Regions from separate parts of the Homo sapiens genome. Here region 2 is reported to be linked to region 1. The links are microRNA targets in miRTarBase. Many come from high-throughput screens and were not tested one by one. Region 1 holds a microRNA gene; the other region holds the end of a gene's coding sequence.
What was found. Region 1 holds the annotated microRNA hsa-miR-3934-3p (UGCUCAGGUUGCACAGCUGGGA, at 2,078-2,099, opposite strand). A microRNA usually pairs through its seed, bases 2 to 8, with sites in the 3' UTR of a target mRNA and lowers its output. Matches are read on the target gene's strand: a 7mer-m8 pairs with bases 2 to 8, a 7mer-A1 pairs with bases 2 to 7 and ends in A, and an 8mer does both.

Region 1 (3,043 bases):
GACCATATACTGTGGAGAAGGTCAAAGGCGTTATTTAAAAAAGAAAATCTATCTTTAGGGCTTTTAAATTCAAGGCTGGGCATCAGGGAACAGAGGAATACCTATTTGCCAAATGGAAGTAGTTGAAATCAGGATGGAAGGAAAATAATTTTATTTTTATGGTCTTAAGAGGGCTTTATAAACAATGAAGGTTTTAATTAAAACAAAAAACCATTCAATAAACGTGTTTGGGGATATCCGCCTAAGAGTTATGTGACCCAGGGGACGTGGTCTGTGGGTTAGATATGAGTTTAACTAGGTATGTTTTAGAGTCATTGATAGACTCTGATTATCAAGAAAGGAAACATCCTGCCAAGCCCGTCCTTTCCTTACTTCCCTATCTCCATTGTCCCTAAGGAGGGGGGCCGGAGAGCCAGGGATGAAGTAGGCAGGTACTGGAAAATTACTATTTTTGTTGCCAAGTATATTATATACAAAAATAGGTTAACCTTTTCTGGGAGGGCATGGCCCTGACACATTTCCTTCTGGTATTCTAGAAATGTGTCTTTCCTCTTCTTCTGGCAGCCTTCAGCAACTTAAGTTTTGAGGATTTGGGCTTCTAGAAAACTCTCTTCTGAGATTAAAACCTGGTGGTGTCACCTGCTATTACATGTCAACTCTAACCCTATTTTTATTCCAGTACTCTCTGGGAAACTGTGGTGAAGATATTTTGGCCAGGCAGAATCACTTTATTGGCAATTTTTTTTAATGTGTAAATTTACTCCTATATCCCTGGGTCCGTGTAATTAGCAGCATTGATGCACATTATTGTGAGGGCCCTGGACAGTTTGAGCAAAGTTTGAACTTGAAGTGAGGGCGGAAGTAAGTTCCAGAGGCCCTGCCTCTGCCCTCTGTTTTGTTCACCTCAGGGCAGCCTCTGCAAGTGGAAAACAGGCAGCAACGAAGGCTGGGAGATAGTCCCGCCATTGGTCCGCGCTGCAGCTTGTTCTGGCAGCGAGTTTAGTTCAGGAAATTTGCTGAGAATTTGTTTTCACAGCAAGCCTCATATTTTTGTTGCAAATTGTGTGGCGTAAGCTTACCAAATGTTTCCTCTGACAGGACAAGAAAAGACCTGCAGCACCTTGTAGTGAGAGGCTTTGAGGGCCTGGCAAGTCTGAAATGTGCTGTGTTCTGGGTTATGTGTGTGTCCACCCTGGGATTGGGGTCATGGAAAGCGCCTAAGGGAGGCCTCAGTGTCCACCTGGACACTGGAAACATGGACTTCTGGAAAAGCTCCAGAGCAGGGGCTTTTTTCTGTTACCTTTTTTGGTCAGAAAAGATACTCTTTTTTTCTCCAGTAGTTTTGTTAACGTGAAAATTTAGGCTGGTAAAGCAAAACAATATTATAAGAATATCTAAAATTTAACATGCACGTAAAATTAGATTTCATGGAACATTAGCCCTAGAGACTTTAGACAAATGGTTCCGTACTGGGGGGATGGTTTTGCCCCCCAGGGGACATGTGGCAATGTCTGGAGACATTTTTAGTTGTCACAACTGGTGGTGCGGGCAGCGGTGCTACTGGCATTAGTGGGTAGAGGCCAGGATGCTTTGAAACAGCCTTCAGTGATGCACAGGCCAGCCCACGACGAAAAATTATCTGGCCCAAAGTGTTGGTAGTGCCAAGGCCAAGAAACCCTGCTTTGGTTCCTGGGTGTAGGGACGTGTATGTTCTTAAACAAGAGCCCCTCCCGCCTGCATTGTGGTGGATGATGGCTGCCTTTTCATTGAGTGCGGGCTGTGTGCCAAGCGAGTTACCTCCATGCTTTTCTTTAATCCTTACAACTTTTGAGGTACGTGTGGTTTTTTTTTTCTTACTTTTTCACCTCTCCCCAAGTTGTCTGCAGATGTGTGTTTTTATCTTCATTTTACAGATGAGGAACCCGAAGCGTAGAGGGTTAAGTAATTTGCTTGAGGGGACCCAGAGTGGGAGATGATGGGCTCGGATTCAGGCCCAAGGCCATCCCCCTCCCAGTGCCTGCTCAACTCCACAGCATGTGCTGAGTCCACACACCAGGATTCAAATCCCTGCTCCACTTCCCAGCTGTGCAACCTGAGCAAGTTACTTCACTGCCTCCTGCCTCAGTTTCCACACCTGAAAACTGGGGACAGGAAGGGCTGTGTGGAGCAGGCCAAATTTTGCGATGAAGCATCTGGGTCTGTGGGTTGCACAGCGGACAGCGCAGGGCCATTTCTTTGCCCTCATACGGAGCAGGGCAACGAGCAGCACATCCCGCTTTGATGCCGAGGGTGAGGAGAGGGCAGGAGACCACTGACAGCGTGCTGGGCACAGAGTCTGGCACACAGTGCTCAGTCCCCGCAAGCGGTCACTTCTGTTACCTGTTTGATCTGCTCTTCAGGAGCTGGGTCTCCACCTTTTTCAGGAACACACTGTGTGAAAAGCAAGCCATGCTTGTGTCGGGAAAGCCCAGTGGGTCCAATCTATGTCATCAAGTTTTAGACTTCAGTCCCTCTCTCTTTTTGTCTTCCCCTTTTGCAGACACCTTGGAAGAGCTTAAGGAAATAGATAAAGGCATGTGGAAGAAACTGCAGGAGAAGTTTGCCCCCAAGGGTCCTGAGGAGGATCATAAGGCCTGAGCTCAGGCCTTACCTCGTGCACATACCTAGGTGTGGAGTCTTGTACATTGCCATCGTCAATAAAACTGCCCCAGTTTCCCCTTGACCTTACGGTTTGGGAATCTCCTCTAGCTTTCCCAGAAAGGAAGCCCTTGCTGCTCTAAAGAAAGTTTCAGCCTGAGAAGGGATGGTGATTGAGCTATCTGCTGTGACTGCTGCTCAGGGTAGGGAAATCTCCTGGGGAGAGGAAATGCAGGTTTCCCTCTGGGCCTGATGAGGGTAATGGGGCCTCGGCACAAGGTGCTTCCTGCATTGCCACGGGAGCCCCCGCCCCTCTGGCACGGGTCTGGTGTCTCCTGGCAAGATACTCAGGCTCCCTTTTGTTGTAGGAGCTCCTGGGAGGAAGCCAAAAATAGCAGTAAATACT
Region 2 (3,523 bases), not on the chromosome of region 1:
TTCGACTTGAAACCCACAAGAGTGTGACGTGGGCATGAGGATAGGCATGGGTTTACTGGTTTACTAGATGGGGGCCGCCAGGACCTCCCTGAGAAGCTGAAGCCCCCTCCCACAGTAACCGTCCTCTCCCCTCTGATGACACAGAATGGGCCAGGGCTGCTCATTTTGGCTGAAAATCACAGCTCTGTTCTTTTCTTTTTCTTTTTTCTTTCTTTTTTTTTTTTGAGACAGAGTCTCACTCTGTTGCTCAGGCTGGAGTGCAGTGGCATGATCTCAGCTCACTGCAACTTCCACCTCCTGGGTTCATGCAATTCTCCTGCCTCAGCCTCCCGAATAGCTGGGATTACAGGCATACATACCATGCATGGCTAATTTTTGTATTTTTAGTAGACATGGGGTTTCACCATGTTGGCCAGGCTGGTCTCGAACTTCTGACCCCAAGTGATCCACCTGCCTCAGCCTCCCAAAGTGCTGGGATTACAGGCGTGAGCCACCGCACCTGGCCAAGCTCTGTTCTTTTCAAATCCCAATCCCTGGGAAGGCACAGTGCCCTCTCCAGGTCCACCTGTGAGCAGGGCAAGGCTGGGCCACTCCACCAGCTCCAGGGGGCCGCGGTCCTGTACATGCCATGCAGGCAGCACAGAACGTTCCAGCCCCAGGCTTTTTGTCAGTGTGGCTTTTGAATGTCACTGCATCCCGCAAGAGACACCGTAATGCTGTTTTAATTATTTCTTTCCCCTGCTGGGAAATCACCTCCATCAAAATGGCTATTCTGAACCCATCCCCAGCCTAGCAACAGCCGGAACTGAGAGGGAATATTAAACTGTTTTCTAAAACTTCGGTGTTGGCATTCGATTTCATATCAAAACTTACTCCAAAGCTCTGATCTGCGGCAGGAAGACAAAAAGCTAACAAGATCAGAAAGGCCAGGCTCACTACGGAGAATGCTGAGAGATGCCAAGGAAGGGGGCTGCTTTGCAGCAGGTGCACCCCAGGGGGTCAGCGGGTCATCACCCTGGGAAGGAGCTGGGGGAGGGGGGGGCGCCACAGCGAGGGACTGACTGCGACCAGAGGCCAGCCCAGAAAGCATGGCCGATGGGATCCCCAGTTCTCTGCAGAGCTGGGGTGAGCGAGGGGGTGAACAACCCATAACTGAGTGAGCAGCGACTCCTTTTATAGGATACTCTAAGGGAGATGCTCTCAGGGCTACAGGGAGAGTAACATGAACACTTCATATCCTCCCGGTACAAGGCAAATTATGCCCCCCACAAATCCACATGCTGAAGTCCTAACCCCAGCACCTCTGATGTGATGGTATTTGGAGACAGGGTCTTTATGGAGGTAATCAAGATTAAATGAGGTCATATAAGTGGGCCCTAATCCAATAGGACCGCAGCCCTTCTAAAAAGAGGGGTGCAGGCTGGGCATGTCCGCTCATGCCTATAATCCCAGCACTTTGGGAGGCTGAGGTGGGTGGGTCGCTCAAGCCCAGGGGTTTGAGAACAGCCTGGGCAACATGGTGAAACCCCATCTCTACAAAAAATACAAAAATTAGATGGGCCTAGTGGTGTGCACTTGTGGTCCCCGCTACTTGGGAGGCTGAGGTGGGAGGATCAATTGAGCCTGGGAGATCAAGGCTGCAGTGAGCTGAGATGGCACCACTTTACTCCTGGGTGACACAGTGAGAACTTGTCTCAAAAAAAAAAAAAAAAATAGGCTGGGCACAGTGGCTCACGCCTGTAATCCCAACACTTTGGGAGGCTGAGGCAGGCAGATCATGAGGTCAGGAGATCAAGACCATCCTGGCCAACATGGTGAAACCCCGTCTCTACTAAAAATACAAAAATTAGCCAGGTGTGGTGGCACCTGCCTGTAATGCCAGCTACTTGGGAGGCTGAGGCAGGAGAATCGCTTGAACCTGGGAGGCAGAGGTTGCAGTGAGCTGAGATCACACCACTGCACTCCAGCCTGGTGACAGAGCGAGACTCTGTCTCAAAAAATAAAAACAAAAATAAAAAATAAAATAAAAGAGGCGGTGAGGACACAGACACACAGAGGGGAGACCATGTGAAGACACGGGGAGAAGCCGGCATCTACAAGCCAAGGCGAAAGGCCTGAGGATGTAATTCTCTGATGTCTGAGCCACTCCCCTGTGGCACTTTACTACACAGTGCCAGTGAACCAATGCACCCCCCTCATTTTAAAGTTTCCAAAGATGCATTCATTCCCAAAAAGGGCCTCTGAAGGGGAAAGCTGTGACCCAAGCTGTCTCAAGCAGCACAATTAGAGCCATCTCCAGACCCAGCCCCTCAACCACAGCAAGAAATTAAGAAACGTCCCCAGCAGACAGCTCCTTTCAAGGACTGTGGGAGCTGGGCCATCCTGAGTCTTGGATGTTTGTGCAAAACCTACATTAAAACGAGTGACCAAGAAGTGATAGGAATGTGGGTGGAGGACACCCATGTCACATCTAAGCTTCTGGGACTTTAAAGTTTTTCAAACTGCAAAACCCTTTTATTTTTAATAAAAGGCCTCACTTCCAAGGAGAGCCCAGCCCAGGAGATCCCCGGTGAATCGTCAAGCCTGGGTCCTCGGGGAGCCGGCGTTCCTGCTGAGCTGATGTTGTACTTCTGAAGGCCTGTGATCGCTAACTGCACCATGAGGCAGAATGCAGGGTGCTCTCAACCAGCTGGGGGTTGGGGTTCAGGCTTTTTTTCATCTTTCGGCCAAGGCAGACAACAACGGACTCATCATCCCACGCGACTGAGTGACGCGAGGCTTCAAACGCAAGCACGAGTGTTTAGAATCCTGCATTTTCAAAGGCTCTTGCCCACTGGGAACTACATGGAGAGGAGATTAAGAACAACAACCAAAAGAGGCAGGGGGTGGGGCAGGCGTGAGGTAGGGGTGGGGTGGGGATGACAGTCAACACAGCTTGGACCAGAAGCCCATGGCGCCTGGCTCCCTGGAAAGGCACAGGGCACAGACGGATGCCGCCTTTCTTGCTGGGACACTCCTGCCACCATCCACAGCTCCCCCGTCACTCCACGTTCTTGTACTTGGTGAACAGGTTGTAAAGAACCCTCAGGGTGGATTTGAGGTCCAAGTTAACCACGTCTGCAGAAGGAAACAGAGAAACTTCAGAGGCGTGCCATCCTCCTGTCATTGCGGTAGGTACTCTCAGAAGCCACGTCTCCAGCATGACACCAGCTGCCGCATCCACACACAGCGCTTCCCCTTAAAGACTGGCCACCACCATGTCCAGGACGCTCTGGGCAGTGCCTCCCCAGACACACAGGTTTTGTGAGAGCTCCTGGCGCGGGCTGACACCCTGCGGGGACAGGCACCTGGGGTGACAAGAACAGAGACACTCCCACAGCCCCTCCTGGATCTGCATCAGGACATGTCTAAGAACCGGTTGGGGGACATGGCTAATGACACTTACCGGGACCAAAAACCCCAGTAACACTTAATGGACCCGACAGCTCCCTCTGGGGCCCTGGAAGTCTTGGGCCACTTTCTT

Region 2: the mRNA of PARVB is a reported target of hsa-miR-3934-3p. Seed matches in the 3' UTR shown: 8mer at 245-252.

Annotation. Positions count from the first base shown.
Region 1 is chr6:33,697,247-33,700,289 of GRCh38, reverse strand. MIR3934 (microRNA 3934) reads right to left here and starts at 2,162; the gene lies at 2,056-2,162. It overlaps UQCC2 (ubiquinol-cytochrome c reductase complex assembly factor 2), which reads left to right. Exons shown (of 4, transcript NM_032340.4): 4 at 2,540-3,043. The coding sequence ends at 2,637. RefSeq lists an enhancer at 1,759-2,734.
Region 2 is chr22:44,168,196-44,171,718 of GRCh38, reverse strand. It overlaps PARVB (parvin beta), which reads right to left. Exons shown (of 13, transcript NM_013327.5): 13 at 1-3,117. The coding sequence ends at 3,041. Among named protein-coding and RNA genes, the nearest start is that of PARVG, 11 kb to the left of the region's middle. RefSeq lists enhancers at 1,101-1,622, 3,513-3,523.